Regions from separate parts of the Homo sapiens genome. Here region 2 is linked to region 1. Evidence: fine-mapped expression QTL. Tissue or cell type: sun-exposed skin. Region 1 holds a variant in brackets; the other region holds the start of a gene. All regions are shown on one strand. Distances are between the middles of the regions.

Evidence for each region. PIP is the estimated chance that this variant, and not a neighbour inherited with it, causes the effect.
Region 2: it holds the start of PIGK, and the variant in region 1 is fine-mapped to the expression of PIGK in sun-exposed skin (GTEx, PIP above 0.99). The same link has a PIP of 0.9 or more in CD4 T cells.

What each region holds. Positions count from the first base shown.
Region 1 is chr1:77,087,230-77,096,793 of GRCh38, forward strand. It overlaps PIGK (phosphatidylinositol glycan anchor biosynthesis class K), which reads right to left. Exons shown (of 11, transcript NM_005482.3): 11 at 1,760-5,261. The coding sequence ends at 5,145. Among named protein-coding and RNA genes, the nearest start is that of MIR7156, 32 kb to the left of the region's middle. The variant G/C (reference allele first, on the strand shown) is at 5,143.
Region 2 is chr1:77,215,639-77,223,638 of GRCh38, forward strand. It overlaps PIGK (phosphatidylinositol glycan anchor biosynthesis class K), which reads right to left and starts at 3,792. Exons shown (of 11, transcript NM_005482.3): 1 at 3,672-3,792. The coding sequence starts at 3,764. LOC105378808 (a long non-coding RNA gene) reads left to right here and starts at 3,882. Exons shown (of 3, transcript XR_001738109.2): 1 at 3,882-4,015; 2 at 5,150-5,355. RefSeq lists an enhancer at 3,476-3,585.

The sequences.
Region 1 (9,564 bases):
TGCTTATTTCGCAAGTGTTTGTGATCTTCTTTTACAATCTCTTTTTAGGAGATAAAATTGAGCTATTTTGTCTAGAAAGGTGTAGTAGGTCAGTGCTTCTCCTACTTTATGGGCACACAAACTCCTCGGGATATTGTTAAAATGCAGATTCTGATTCAGTAGGTCTGAGGTGGGCATCACATTCTGCATTTCTAGGAAGCTACAGGGGGGATACTGCAGCTCCATGAGCCACCCATTGAACAGCAAGTTAGCAGAAAGTAATAAGGGTAACTGCCTGGCTCCTGTGATCCCATCCTTCTCTGGGAGGAGTGCTAATGGGGTATGCCACCAGAGGTCCTTATGGGCTTACAAGACCTTAGCCCTCTGGCCTGTGAACCTGTGATGCCAATAAGGTTAATCTATTCTTCCATAAGACTTGTAGAACTGGAATTAAAGGAAGACAGTAATTTACCTCTCTCTTGTGGTAGAAGCATGGGATATGAGGTTCTATCCATCATGTGAGAAAGTCAGTTTCCAGGAGGAATAAAGGGAACACAGAGAGAGAGAGTGAGTCCAGGTGATACTCCAGTGCCTGATGAGGCTCAGACCTGACCCCACTTCTGAAAGATTATACAAAATATCCTAATATTCTTCTGGCAAATTCCCCTCTTGGCCTACATTTGTTCTACTTTGGTTGTTATCATTTGAAACTAAAAAAGCTCTAACAAAGGGTAGGGAAAGTAGGGGATATGTTCTCTTGGAAATGTAATGCTCACTGTTTTGCAGTACTAGATTATTATCCAGACATCTGCAACCTGAGGGTGAGGAAAGACTGTCCCTTAAATCATGTTAAAGGTATGTTCCCAACAGAGTGGACTGAATATGAAAAAAGAAGACAGTGGAACACTAAGGCTGAGGGAAGATGAGAAAAGCCTCAATCTACCTAAAATAGGAGAAAAATCTAGAAAAGGGAGGCAAGAGAGTCTATGGATTAAAATCGTTGGATAGTATCGAAAGAAACTGTTACCCAAAATTTATGCCTGCTGAAAACAGATGGGAAAAGGACAGTCTAGGAATAGCAAAGCTAATGTTCTCTAAAGAGTGACAAGACCCTGGGCCTGAGTGGAAGTTAAAAGCAAGATAGTCCTGCCCAGCAAAGAACAAAACATTGACTTTTCCTATATGTCAGACATTGTGTGATTTGCTTTACATTTTTTTTTTTTTTTTTTTTTTGAGACGGAGTCTCGCTCTGTCGCCCAGGCTGGAGTGCAGTGGCGCAATCTCGGCTCACTGCAGGCTCCGCCCCCCGGAGGTTCACGCCATTCTCCTGCCTCAGCCTCCCGAGTAGCTGGGACTACAGGCACCCGCCACCTCGCCCGGCTAATTTTTTGTATTTTCAGTAGAGATGGGGTTTCACCGTGTTAGCCAGGATGGTCTCAATCTCCTGAACTCATGATCCACCCGCCTCTGCCTCCCAAAGTGCTGGGATTACAGGTATGAGCCACCATGCCCAGCCAATTTGCTTTACATTTATGACCTTATTAAATGACCCCCCCTAAGAAAGTTTCGCTCATGTCCGTCCCTGAAACTCTAGCACAGTCAAAGCTGGCACTACCATAGTCAAAAGAGAGAAAACTGAACGTGGGTCGTATCATGTGATTCCCACCTGGCAGACCCTATGACTGGGTATACCTCAGCAGGCAAATCTCAGAGTCCTCTGAAGTCTCTGAGACTGCAAACTGTGCAGGTGACACAAGAATGACACTGCCACCTTTCCATGTTTGGAGTAAATAAATTTTTAATAACCAGTTTCTTGGTTACAACTTCATCTATATAAATCCCCTTATTCTAGGATCTACACAGTTAAACCTAATATTTCACAGCACATTTCCAAAACAGTACAGTTTTTACACTAAGAAAAAAAAATAAAAATAAAAGCCTGGTTACCACCAAGGTGTATTGTCCATGAATTGAAAGGCTTTCCTATTTAAGTAGCAGGTACATGTGTAAATAGGGCAGGCAGCAACAGAACAGCAATATTGGAGAACTCTTTCTTTGTAGTAAATGCCCTTGAGTATGAGATGTGACACTGAAGCAATAAGGCCAATTCTTTAAAGCAAAAATGGATACTGATCTCATTGTTTTATAGCCATATCTTGTGGTATGTTTATAACGTATTTCTTTCACATGTTAAAACAGTATCTACTAAAGATGGGCTTAATTTTGGTAAAGTCAACTGAAAAAAGTTATATGTTAATGCAACATTTGTTGTAAAGATTCCAGAAACACAGGAGTCAAAATTTCAAATTATGATTCCCACAGTAACTGTAACTCTGGTATACAACATACATAATGGAAGAAATGTTATCAATATATACCATAGTAGAAAATACTCAGTAAGCAGAAACAAGCTGAGTTATGCTTCTTGTGGGAATCATCATTTTCAACTAGCTGGGAATATATAAAAATCAAAACCATAAATGCATGGATTATTTTTTGCATTTAATTCTAATATTTCTTGATCCAATTTAATCAGCTTTGTATCCAAACTACATTTTCCTTTCATAAACTGCAAATGAATGTCTTTCGTAATTTTAAAATCCACATTATTTGATTTCTTTTTCTCACACAGGCTGCCTTTGCAGGATGGCATCATTATACCCTGTCCCTCCCTGAAATGTCAGGACACATCTGCAGGGATTCATTTATCTACATTCCTTTTCTCTCTGAAGGACACCATGGGGGAGGAGAAAAAGAACAGCAAAGAGAACAAGAATCACATTGAGTAGCTTAGAAAGCTACATAAGTGCACTGTGACCATTAACTTCCCCTTTGGTATCCTCCTAAGCCGACATAAGAACAATAATGCCACCATATATTTACAATTTCAGAAGTGTTTAGTCAAAATACTATCTCATCTGATTCTCACCACAACACTGTGAGAAAGGCAAAAACAAAACACCTTTCTGTTGTTCAGCTTTTGTGACTCAAGTAGAATATATTTAAGGATTTGTTTTTATGATACTGTTTAAAGTGTAGGCCATTTAATTGCACTGACAATATTTCCTAAACGTACTCATCTACCACATGCAGAGGATTTAGTTATTATGAAGGCAGAGTATGCTCTATGTAAAAAGATTATGGTTATAAGTGAAACATTTAACATATTTTAAGCTTTTGGCTTTAACTATATTCTGAAGATTCAATAATGAAACAGAGGAACAACTGCCCTTTGAAATTCTGCTGAGGCAAAATTTATCCTGAATATTTTATCCAGTATTACTTTTCCCAGTTTGGTTTTAACTAAGAAGGGCACCTTCTACAACCTCTGAAGACGAATCCTTTTACTTTCTAGCAGTCTTTACAGGGTATGTTTCATTATATTCAAACTAAATTACTTTGGCTCAAGAACAATCATAATTCCTTTACCACCCTAAATAGCTCCGCCTCACCGTGGTGTCCACGACCTTGTATGAGTGTCTGGAGGGCAACATGGTCAATCTTTTTGTGTCTCAGTGCTACTATAATCAGTCTATTCAATTGCAAGTTTATTTTCCCTTCTTTTCATGTACAGAAAGATCCTTCACATAATCAGACAAAATTTTTCTTCCTCATTTATATAACACATCAATAAAAAGATCAATTAAAATAAAGATTCAGAGCTGGCAAAAAGCCTCAATATCATTTGTTCTAACTAGGGAGATAACACAGTCAATCCTTTGCCTTTTGAAAAGTATGACAATCTTGCATGCAATTAAAAGGTAATATTATAAGTGCAAAAGGAAAAACAAATCTTAAGGAATATTAATTTTAGGAGGTTTTCTTGTGGAGGAAGAGTTGTCTTAATGTTACCTACAATTATAAACAAAATTTAAAAAAAAATCTTTGCACTGAATAAAGATGAACACATAAATTCTTGCATAAAACAGATAAGACACCTGAAGGTATCCCCCCAGACATAAATACTTAACTTTTAGGCTTTTCCTCTACTCATATGCAAAAGTTTGAAAAGAAAAAACAACATCAGGGGTTGGTCATAGCACAGTCTCAATATTATTTCCAAACTAAAATGTCAGTGATGGGGATATGAGCTCTTGCATCTTACCAGAGACTAGAAAAGGGGCTTACTGCCTTATAGGATACATCAGCCAGACATGAAGGCTAGGCCATAAGCATACATTTTCTTCACAGGTCCATCCACTTTATGGGATTTTTCTCAAGGAAAGTATAGATACAGCCAGTGGGCAAGGAGGTTTACCTAAAACAGAATGAAATAAAGTCCTTGTTGGCTCTCTCTTTCAAGATGGAAAATGAAGAGGACGTGACCAATTGTAGAAGATCACAGAACGCTTACAAATGAAAAACAATGGGGTATGTTTCTCTTGAGCAGTCAGTACGTGAAATTATCAAAGGTCTAAAATTTCCCAAATAAACTGACAACAAACATATAAGGTCCTGGAGATTGTCAGTGCCATAGATTAAAAAACCAATTTTTCATCTTTGCTTTTAATTAAAGCTGCAGGATTCCATGAGTGACCAGCAGTAAAATATTAATACATTAAAGAATAAACCAAAGGAAAACATTTGGTACAATGTAAGTGGTCCAACAATAGAAGACTGTGAAATGAATTAAATATTCATAAAGTGAATACTATGCAGTCATTCACAATGTATTTTTGAGAGGGAAAAGGTTGATAATACATTGTAAAATGAAAAAAGACATTACAAAATAGTACATTCCATATGATCTCCATATTGGGAAAAAATATGTGCATAAGTCAAAAGATTGGGAGGATATACAAAAAATAATTAACCAAAGTTACTTCTGTTAGTGAGAATTTAATGTCTTCACAATTGTTTCTTTTCCAAATGAAAAGGGGATAAGGGGAAATTACTATTTTCAAAAACAGTCAATGTATTCTGATCTCTGTCTCATTCGCTTTTATAATACACAAAATACAAAACTGGAATATATTTAGTGCCATTAAGCAGTTGCATTAACAATTATTTTTCTTTAAGTTATAAAATTAATAGTTGATTCAAATTTAGTTTCCTTATACTTATTTCCAATTCATACAAGAGAAACACATTTTTAAAAATATATAATGACATAAATTATTATCCAAGTTTGCAGTCCTCCATGCATTCTTCATTCATCATCAA[G/C]TCTAAAAAATGAACTTCATATGCTTAATTCCATAAGTTTTGAAGAAAACCATGATAATAAGTGCCCATAATCCCAGAATAAAGCCCCCAGGAGGATGCCAGTCTTTCAGCTTCGGTTTCTGCAAAACAAGAATAACATGATAAATTTTATAACAGGTAAATAATTCAGCAATCAATAAAGCAAACATTGATGAAAAAGATAAATTTCACTGGTTGTGTTTGAATGGGGACTAGTTAGTCAAATTAAACACATTGGGATAGCAACAATGGTAAAGACTTCAGACAGGGTAAATATCCTACAGGGTAAACTGGCTCCTAACAAAGATCAGTTTCAGCTTATATTTTGTTTCCTCAAAGAGTCCTTCCCTGACTACCTAATCATACCATCTATCCTCACTCAAGTTACTCAGTAGCCTAACAGTCTTTCTCACTTTGGATTTATATATTCATTAATTTGTCGGTTTTATCTATCTCTATTAGACTGTAGTTTCATGACGGTCATCTTATTATATTCCCAGCACCAACCTGCCATGGTGCTTGCCATTCAGGAGGCATTCATATATCATAGTGAGTAAATCAGTGGAAGAACAAACGCTACCCAATTCCATTCAGCTATTCAACACACACTTGTTTAAGTGCCAGTGCCTTGGGTCATGTTTTTCCCTTGAGGTAGAATGCTCCTTAACCTATTCATTGTGCCTATTCAAAACTCACTAACTCAAATGCCTCCTCCAGACTCTCCCACCTGATATGTTATTTTCTTTGAGTTCCCATAGTACCTGAACTATAACTCCTTCTATTGTTACTCCTATTCACTATTATATTTATCTTTATCATTTATCTCCCTGCACACTCCCTGGGATCAAAGTCCATCTAAGTCAATTTTTTATCCCCCTTCTCTATTCCCCACCCCACAAGTGTCACGTATGCTTTTTTGTCCAGCAAGACCAGTCTTCTCCATTTAGTTGTCATTTCAACAGCTACATTACAGCCTTGTAATTGGAAGTTTGTGACAATGATTTCTTTTCTACTTACTGAATTACTGGCCAAGACTGTAATGACAGTTATGATATTAGAATCACATTTTAGACAATAGGGGAGAGAAATAGTAAGCTAAAATTTGCTTTAGTCATCATGTATAATGTCCATCAATTCAAAATTAACTTTTCAAACTAAAAGGAAAGAAAGCTACCTCAATATTTTAACTTGAATCATAATTCTAGAGTTTTCAGAGCTTTTAATCAAATGCTTAATATAAACTGACCTACCAACGTTTAAAGTGGTTACATTCCATCTTCATTCCTATGCTTACCCTCAACCTCTACCAGTCCATCCAGAAAACTCCCCCAAAATTTATCCCAAAATATTAAATCCAATTTTTCTCATGTTATTTTCCACTTAAGAGTCTGCAGTGGCTTCCACTCAACATGTGTGATGATAATGGCAAAAGTCCTTGCCCTCTAATATCCTACAAGACGGTAAGTTCGGTGGTTCTCAAACCATTTCTAATGGCAAAGCTCTTGGAAGTTACAGTGCTTTCTGTGCAATACTGTGACAAATCTTAATTCAATTCCAGTAGAAAATCTAGAATAATTAATAAAAAGCAAAGCTATATTAAAGATAAGTAATATAAATATCACAAGCACGTGTCAATGAAAAAATAAGTGAGTGAACTAAACAAGACTACTGCTCAGTTTTTGTCCTGTTTATTTTCTACTAGTCAAACAATTTGTAATTCACACAAAAGGGTTGAAAATGTTTAAGATCTAAAACTACTTTTCCACATACCGGGAAAAGGTTACCGTTATTCATTATTAGTGGAAGCACATTTTATACAACCTATAGATATTCCCTGAAAGCCCAGTTTAAAAGCACTGACCTAGTTTGAGAGATCAGATACTGATTTTCCCTAACAACTAGGAGTCCCTCATTTATATGGCATTTAAAAACACTCACAATTAGGTTACTACTGTAAAAAAGTTAAATACATATTGTCAAAATCTGGCACCAATGTAAACTCTTAACTAAGGAGAACAGGCTATAGACAATTGTTCCATAAATCCAATTAATGAACTTCAGTGCTAAAAGACTTAAGAAGGCATTTAAACCAAGTCATGTTTTTCAAAAAATGGTGAACATCATTCAAGCTCTACATTCATCAGAGATTATAGAAACAATAATCAAGTAGTTATAGCACATCTTAATTCTGCAGCTGTAATAACTCCAGTTACTTTCCAATGAGATGGACTCCCTGAGGTTGTAATTTTACTATTAAATCTTAAACTTAGCAGCCAGAAACAGTTGCCAGAGATAAGACAACTATGGAAAAAATAGCATCTTTGAAAGTAACTATCATTTTTCCAAAGATTCAACAACTAGTCCTGGCAGCTATTTTGACCCATTATTCCACAGGCTGGCTTGGAGAATTCTGGAGGCACTTCATTCTGGTCTTTCAACCTCCTTGACAGGTATGTGTTTCACATCTAGACCGCTGATGGCCAGGGTAGGAACAAAGAGAAAATCAAAGTGCTATTTCTCCAACAGCAAACTTTAAAAGTAATAATGGAGGACTAAGAAATATATGTAATTTCTGCAAAATTATAATGGAACAGTAAACTTATTCACATGATAACACTGCATAAGCTACCAAAAGCAGCAAATCCTGGCCTTTCAAAACTGCTCTTTGCAGTTGCTATGTTTCTTAATGTTCGTTCAATACATTTTTTTGATTAATAAAAAATGGAAAATGCATTATGAACTAAATGCACTTTGGACTCAGCTTAAGAAGGTATCTGAATAGAATCCCCTAGTGCAGTCTCTCCCACCTTCTCACAATAATCCATACAAAGGCACAGAAAAAGACAACAGCACACCCTACCAAAATTCAGTTAACCTCTGATGAGAAATCTCTGACAGTTTCCCAGAAACAAGGATTAGAAACAAATTAATGGTAGGCTTAGTTTTCTGTTTGGTATATACCATGCAACGGCTTGCTTTGCTCTGTGAAACACAATACTTCTGCAGCTGAGTAAGGGACTTTAGCTCACTCCCTTTTTCCACCTGCTGTTTAACAGACACAGTGCTTATGCAGTAGAAAGATGGCTTTATGAGGCAGCCAGAGTTGTGTAACTCATTCCCAGTTCCCAGTGGCACACCTCTTTATATGTCCATTTAAATATAATTCCCAGCAAGCAATATGACAAAAGGGTAGGGGGGCACTGACAATGGTTCACTGCTTCCTGGAAGGCTTAGTATCACAGGAAAAGCTCTGCAGAGACCAGAAAATGCAGGGAAAACCCTGTTAGTAGTACACGTTTTAAAAATATGTTTTTTTCCATATACTTCACCTTTTTTTAAGTGCCCCAAAAAACAGGCATAAGTGGCATGGTAGCAGATGATCCTAGTTTAAGCCACATTTAGAGTGGTCTAAGAACCAGTCACTTGGAACCATATAACAACCTATTCCTCAGATACAGATTTGAGAAGGCATTTAAACCTAAGTGGATAGTGAAAACCATCCACACACTCTGTTGGCAAATACCAACAGTGTCCAAATAAAAAGGAAAAATTGAGGTGGGCTCTATGAGGAAAAATCCTCCCAAACATGAGAAATAAATTATAATCTGAAGAGGCAGAGAAGATCTCCCTGAGAAAAATTTAATAAGGAACCAAAAATTAATTTTAGACAATTTTTATCTGGCATGGATTTGAATAAAGATTCACAACGAACCAAAAATGAAAGAACAATATAAAGAGAAAAAGAATACATGATACAAAGACAACAGGCTGAAATAAAAAGGGAGCTGGATGACATAATTTTGTAACAGCAAAATTAAAATCCACATTTACAAGGAACATAGTGTTCTAAGCACATCTTCGAGTCCTTCATTCATCCAATTGTATGTTAGATTGATGGGCAAACATGGCCCTAATTACCCATTCTTGGCTGTGTCCATACCCTCTGCAACGTGACTTTATAGAAGCTGTCAGCAAGAGGTAGAATCTATATCCCTATCCTTTGAATCAGCAGGTCTTATGACTTCTTTTGGCCAACAAAATGCAACACAAGTAACAATGTCCCAGCTCTAAGTTAGCCTCAAGAGGCTTGGCTTGCTTCTGCTCTCTCTCAGACCTCTTCCACCACCAGGAGAAAAAGCCTACACTTCCAGCTACAGAAGAGCCGAGCTTCCCTCCAGCTAATAACCAGCCAACTATAAGGGCAAAACCATCTTACTAATCAAGTTGACCACACCACAGACTCATGACGGAGCCTAACTGAGAACACAACTGCCCAGCTAAACTCATCCTAAATTGCCAACTTGCAGAATTGTGAGCTAAATAAATGACTGATGTTTTAAATTACTAAGTTTGGAGTGGTTCATGATACATCAAAAGTTATGAAATACATCCACAGCGGTGACA
Region 2 (8,000 bases), 130 kb after region 1:
TTCACAATAACCAAGATATAGCATCAACCTGAGTGTCTATCAGTAGATGAATGGATAAAGCAAATGTGTGTGTGTGCGTGCACACACGTGTATATATAAAATGGAGTATTATTCATCCATAAAAAGAATAAAATCCTTTCATAAACAGGTACGTGGATGAACCTGGAGGAAATTACATTAAGTGAAATAAGTCAGGCACAGAAATTTAAATTTTTTAATTTCAATATCACCCAGATACGGACATTTTTAAAAACTTGATCTCATGGAAATAGAGTAGAATAGAGGCTGGGAAGAATAGGAAGGTGACGGGGGGAGTACAGAGAGACATTCGTTAACAGATACAAAATTACAGATAGCAGGAATAAGTTCTAGCCTTCTATAGCACTTTAGAGTAACTATAGTAAACAATAATTTATTATATTTTCTCAACTACCTAGAAATCTTTTCTAACATTTTGAATATTATCAACACAAAGAAATGATAAAGTTTTGAGGTGACAGATATGCTGATTACTCTGATTTGATCATTTCATATTGAATATGTCTGAAAATATCACACTATATACCCCATAAATATGCACAATTATTGTGCCAATTAAAATATACATATTACAAAAAGAGAGGCATCGCTTAAAGAGAATACAACATTGGTCAGAAAGTAAAGTATCTATTTCTGGAGATTTGTGAAATATCATTAACAGATTTTAGAGTGTACATGTAACCCTCAAGAATATCAATTTTCATTAGAATATCATTTGCTGTAGTAATACAAGTTAATTCTTACGTTAACTACCAATAGAGATGGAAAAAACTGATCTCTGAAATTACTATGGCTAGGATAAAATACCCTTAATTTAGCAAGGCAATAACATAGTATTTCACATTAAATGAAACTATAATGGGTTGTCTATTGTTAAGCATTGTTTCTGATAAATTGACATGATAAATATAGAATAATAACCTGAACAAAAAGTGTGTGTGTGGCATGTGTGTGTGGGGGGGTGTGTGTGTGTGTATTTTTCCCCCTCCAAACTCAACAGCTGCCTGGATGTTAAAGAAAGCAATGTGCTACAGTGGTTAAGCATTGATTTGGGAATTCAAAGACCTAAGCTAAAATTTAGGTCCTATCTCGCAACTGGCTGTGAAATTGCGGTAAGTCATTTAGCTCTTTAGACTTGACTATCCTCATGTCTCTAATGTGCCTTCCACCTCCAAAGTTCTTACTTCTTTCAGACCTTAGTGAAAAAATTTAGATGGCAAAACTTTTTTGTGGTTGTCTAGACAATACAGTCATTATAAAGTTATTCATTCTACATACAGTAAATGCAGCACCTATTATGTGCCAGATACCATTAATATATAGTGATACAAAAATCACTAAAAAGCATGCTGCTTTCTCTCAAGAATCCAGAGTTCAATAAAGAGGAGCATGCAAACACATTACACTATAATTATTACATTCATTAATTCATCACACTCATTGGGCAACATGCCAGTCACTGCCCTGAGTGCTCCAAATACAATGCTGGGCAAAAATAGCCATAGTACTGCCTTCAAATAGGTTACTATCTAATTGGATAGATATACATTTAACAGATAAGGAAAGACACACAATATAATAAGAGTACAACAGAGGGACCTGACCTGGTCAGGAAAGTTTTCCTAAAGAAGTGACTGTTGGGTTAAAATCCAAAAGATGAAGAAAAGAGGAAATACAATTCCAGACAGAGGGGAGACAGCTCTAATGTGAGAAAAAGCTTAAAGGTTTTGAGAAACTGAAAGAAAGTTAGCCTAACTAGAAGTTTGAAAGAGAAAGAAAAAATTTGAAGTGTAGTCAGGGCCCAAAAAATATGCAGGGTTTTTGTTTGTGGGTCATGGTGGAGAGTTTAGAGCAACATTAAGGTGATCTTTTGAGCAACATCAAGGTCCCTGGGTGACATGATTGGAACTGCATTTTTAAAAGTTACTCTGGCTTCAATTTGGAGAACAGATTGAAAGGAAAAAACAACGACTCAAGGCAAAACATTTAGGAAACTGTTGCTCCTATCTCTAAGTGAGATATGATGGAATAACAGTACAAACCATACACGGGTTATAGTAAATGAGTGCTGTATCAAGTGTACAAATTACAAGAGTAAAGGCAAAGGTAAGAGATAGGGAAACGTTCTACAGAGGTTATGCCTTTACTGTATCTTAGCACATGAACAGAGGAAACACAATGTATAAAATATTGTAATGTGAAAAAGCACAGCAATTATGTAACTACAAAAAACAGTAATAGTATCCAAGATGAAGCAGTCAAAGTTAGAATAAAGGAGGGAAACAGAACTTCTATTTACTCATATTTATGTTCTCTAAAAATTATGCTATATAAACATCAAATATATAAATTAACAGTAATTCATAAATATATATGAAGTTCATGCTCAATATCTTTTTTTAACTGATAGGGTGTGTATTCAAAAAGTTTGGAGTCCACTGGTCTAAGCTCAAGGTGCCCAGGTGGTGGGGAGAAGAGGTTCCAATATGGAACACTGGAAAAGTAGGCAAGCACCAGGTCATAACGTTTAGACTTTATTCTGTATGCAATTAATAAATATTTAAAAGATTTCATCAGAAGAATAACCTGATCAGGCTTACATTTCGTGTAGACGAATCTAGCACCAAACTCAGGGAGTATGGAGGCCTATGGAAAACAAGATAAAGTAATCGCAAGAGTCTAGACAAGAAGTGATCACAGCCTGAATTAAGTCAGTGGAACTGGAGAGGTGAGGGCAATTTTAAGAACTCAGATCACAAAATTTAGTGATAATTAGAATATGGGATAAAGAGATTAAGACTCTCAGGTTTCTAGCTTAGGAGCAGCACATCTGGTTGAGAAATGGAGGAGAAAAGGGGTGCTTAGTTTTTCAGTGTCTTTTTAAGAGGAGGTAGGATAAGCAGAAGATAAAACTTTGCACACGGATTTTCAAATGTCTCCTGACTATCCCGGATTCTTAGTCAGCTGGATATGCAGGCCTGAAAAAGATACCAGACATCTAGATTGTAGACCGGGACTGAGGAATCATCAGAGTATGGTGAATAGTAAAAGCATTATAGAGCACCAGAACATCCTGTGTCCACGTTTAAAAATGGGAAGCTGGAGGAGCCCAGGATAAAACTAAGCACCCCTTTTCTCTTCCATTTCTTAACCCAGACGTGTTGCCCCTAAGCCAGAAACTTGAGAGTTTTAATAAACACTTATATTTATCCCATGTTCTAATTATCACTAAATTCTATTATCTGGATTCTTAAAATTGCCCTCATCTCTCCAGTTCCGTCTGACTCCTATCAAAACAGAGGGCTGCAGTTGAGTAGTAGGAAAGCAGTTGCTGCACACTGACATTTCACGAGCCTCTTGCTCGTATTTCACCTAAGAACTGCACACATGTAGGAGCAAAGGATCAGGTCCTCCTCTGTCTCCGAGGGTTTGATTATTTCAATTCATCGTTTTAAAACGCTGAAACAGACCAACAGTGTCCTAACCCGTGCCCAGTGATACCCTCCTCAAACCCAGCCTGGGTCAGGGGCTGATTGACTCCAGGAGGCGTCCCTCAGCTACTGTGTATCGGACATCTGCTGGAGGGCTCACAGCCGGCCTCCCGGCTGTGGTCAAATGAGCCTGACTCCTACCTCGATATGACTAGCGGCCACGCTGCCGAAGGACAAGAGCAACACAGTTGCCAAGACAGTCGCAGCCCGGCTGAGGCTGTCGGTGACGGCCATGTTTACCGGCTTCAGACTTCCCGCACCTGAAGGGGCGGAGGCAGTGCCGTAAAGTAGCGCTGCGGGTTTTTGCGACACCATCCGCGCCTCTTCGAGGTGGCCCTCTGGTCCGGCTTTAGAACTCTGCGGTTTTGTGGAGCTCGAGAGTCCGGGACAAGGTAGACGCAGGATATTGACCTTTTTATTTTTAACTGCATTTTCAGTTTGGAGGTTGTAAAATAGGTATAACATTTAAGAAAAAAAATTGAAAGGTGAGTGGAGGGAAAACCCGTAACTCCTTAAACTTTAAAAACTTATTTCTCTGTTCCCTTATTTATTTTATTTATTTATTTATTTATTTATTTATTTATTTTGCCGAGTGCTGCCAATTCTTTGAAAATATGAAGCTGGATGTGGTGGGAAGAACAAGCGTTTTGGCACAAAAAGATGATTAATTGGATAAACTATAAATGGAAAATGTGGGTGGGCGCTGCAATTTAGAGGCTTGGGGTCTACTACCTGGTGAAAGGATTAACATGGGAAGCTAGTTACGTTTTTGTTTCTTGAGTATCTTCTGTAATTATGGAACTAAAGCCTATCTGGAAGAGACACAGCTGGTGTATATGTATGGTCCACCATTCTCTTTATTATGTGAGTTCAGTTTTAATTTATGCATTTCATCTAGTATGACATAAACGTTTCCACGCTGCTTCCTCACAATTTTAACATTTAATGGTGAGATAAAATTCCATCCATTATTGATGCCTCAGCCAAAGTAATTGTCCCTCTGCTGCACAATGCAAAGTTTTTAAGTTTTACTATGAAAATAATATTGTAAAGAGTATCTTTTGTGTGTTTGGCTTTTTAAATCTGTTGAATTATTTTGTTTGTATAATTTTCCTGAACTAGGAATTTGGGGTCAAAATATTCCAAAACATTTTAATAACTATAAATGATGTTGCTTTCCAAAATGAACAAGCTTACAGCACTATCAGAATACACAACACCAAACCATACCATTTTTTTTCCTTTAAATTCTTTGGTATGAAATGTTACCCCTAGGTAACTATACTTATAATTCTTTGGTTACTATCAAGATCTGATGTCTTTCTTGTGTTTCTAAACTATCTCTGTGTCCTCTGATGTAAATTCTTTGTTTATATATTTATGTTTTGCATATGAATTTGAATAATATATTTATAAATAAGTAACATTAGCCTTTGCCATATTTTATGCTATTGCTTTTCCCATTCTCTTGTCTCTCTTTTCCTTTTATTTGTTTCTTTTGCTATTGCACTTTGTGAGAGGTTTCATGCTATTTAGTCAAATTTAGGTTTTCCGTTACGTGAATCCTAGAAAGTAAATACACTGCCAGAATATCTTCCATGTATTCATTAATTCAACAGATATCTATTGGATGCTGATGATTATGAAACAAAGTAGCAAAGATAAGAAGCCATTTGCTCATTCTGCTCCTTTGCCAGCAATATTTCACAAAGCCCCTGACTCATTGACTGTGAGCAGCCTTGTGGAAGAATGCCTTGAAGACCATAAGCAGGATAGGGAATAGGTTTGCACATCTCTTGCCTGAATCACTGAATTTTTACAAAAGGTAAGTTTGGTGATCCTAGCCCTTGCCTCTTCCTGTACATAAGATAATGTCTGACAAGATTAATGATTATGCCTCAAATTCATGACCAGATGTAACTTCATACCCACACTTTGATGAGACTTTACTTGTATTAACCCATTTTCATACTGCTATGAAGAAATACCCAAGACTGCATAATTTCTAAAGAAAAAGGCTTAGTGGACTCACAGTTCCACATGGCTGGGGAAGCCTCACAATCATGGTAGAAGATGAAGAAGGAGCAAAGGCACATCTTACATGGCAGCAGGTGAGAGAGCATGTGCAGAGGAACTACCCTTTATAAAACCATCAGAGGCCAGGTGCAGTGGCTCACACCTGTAATCCTAGCACTTTGGGAGGCCGAGGCAGGCAGATCATCTGAGGTCAGGCATTCAAGACCAGCCTGGCCAACATGGCAAAACCCCATGTTTCAAAATTAGCTCAGTGTGGGGGCACATGCCTGTAATACCAGCTACTAGGGAGGCTGAGGCAGGAGAATCGCTTGAACCTGGGAGGCAGAGGTTGCAGTGAGCCAAGATCACGCTACTGTACTCCAGCCTGGGCAACAGAGCCAGACTTTGTCTCAAAAAATAAAATGAAATAAAATAAAAATAAATAAATAGATAGATAAATAAAACCATCAGAGCTCGTGAGAACTCACTACCATGACAACATGAGGGTAACTGATCCCATAATTAAATTACTTCCCATCAGGTCCCTCCCTTGACACTTGGGGATTATGGGAGCTACAATTCAAGATGAGATTTGGGTTGGGACACAGCCAAACCATATCATTCCACCCTGGCCCCTCCAAAATCTCCTGTCCTCACATTTCAAAAGCAATCATGCCTTACCAGCAGTCCCCCAAAGTCTTAACTCATTTCAGCATTAACTCAAAAGTCTACAGTCCAAAGTCTCATCTGAGACAAGGCAAGTCCCTTCTGCCTATGAGCTTGTAAAATCATAAGCAAGTTAAGTTACTTCCTAAATACAATGGGGGTACAAGCATTGGGTAAATACACCCATTCCAAATGGGAGAAATAGGCCAAAATGAAGGGACTACAGGGCCCATGCAAGTCCAAAATCCAGCAGGGCAGTCAAATCTTAAAGCTCCAAAATGATCTGCTTTGACTCCGTGTCTCACATCCAGTTCACGTTGATACAAGAGGTAGGTTGCCATGGTCTTGGGCAGCTCTGCCCCTGTGGCTTTGCAAGATACAGCCTCCTTCCCAGCTGCTTTAACAGGCTGGCATTGAGTGTCTCTGGCTTTCCCAGGCATATGCTGCAAGCTGTTGGTGGATCTACCATCCTGGGGTCTGGAGGATGGTGGCCCTCTTCTCACAGCTCCACTAGGCACTGCCCCAGTGGGGACTCTGTGTGGGGGATCCCACCCCACATTTCCCTTCTGCATTGCCCTTCTGCCTTAGCAGAGGTCGTGCATGAGGGCCCTGCCCCTGCAGCACACCTCTGCCTGAACATCCGGGTGTTTCCATACATCCTCTGAAATCTAGGCAGGGTTCCCAAACCTCAATTCTTGACTTCCGTGCACCCACAGTCCCAATATCACATGTGAGCAGCCTGAGACTGCACAAAGCAGCAAGGCCCTGGGCCCAGCCCATAAACCCATTTTTCCTCCTTGGCCTCCTGGCTTGTGATGAGAGGGACTTCCAGGAAGACCTCTTACATGCCCTGGAGACATTTTTCCCATTGTCGTGGTAATTAACATGTGGCTTCTTGTTACTTATGCAAATTTCTGCAGCAGGCTTGAATTTCTCCGCAAAAAATGGGTTTTTCTTTTCTATCACGTCATCAGGCTGCAAGTTTTCCTTTTATGCTCTGCTTCCTCTTGAACGCTTTGCCACTTAGAAATTTCTTCCCTCAGGTACCCTAAATCATCTCTCTAAAGTTCAAAGTTCCACAGATAACTAGGGCAGGGGCAAAATGCCACCAGTCTCTTTGCTAAAGCATAGCAAGAGTGACCTTTATTCCATTTCCCAACAAGTTCCTCATCTCCATCTGAGACCACCTCAGCCTGGACTTCTTTGTCCGTATCCCTATTAGCCTTCTGATCAAAGCCATTCAACAAGTCTCTAGGAAGTTCCAAACTTTCCTACATCTTTCTGTCTTCTGAGCCCTCCAAGTCTCTAGGAAGTTCCAGAGTTTCCCACATTTTCCTGTCTTCTTCTGAGCCCTCCAAACTGTTCCAACCTCTGCCTGTTACCCTGTTCCAAAGTTGCTTCAACATTTTCTGTTAACCTTATAGCAGAGCCCCACTACCTCAGTTCCAATTTACTGTATTAGTCCATTTTCATACTACTGTGAAGAAATAGCCAAGACTGGGTAATTTATAAAGAAAAAGAGGTTCAGTGGACTCACAGTTCCACATGGCTGGGGAGGCCTCACAATCGTGACAGAAGGCAAAGGAGGAGCAAAGACACATCTTACCTGGCAGCAAGGCAAGAGAGAGAGCATGTGCGGAGGAACTGCCCTTTATGAAACCATCAGATTTCCTGAGATTTATTCACTATCATGAGACCAGCAGGGGAAAAACTTGCCCCCATGATTAAATTACTTCCCACCGGGTCCTACCATTGACACATGGGGATTATGGGAGCTACAATTCAAGA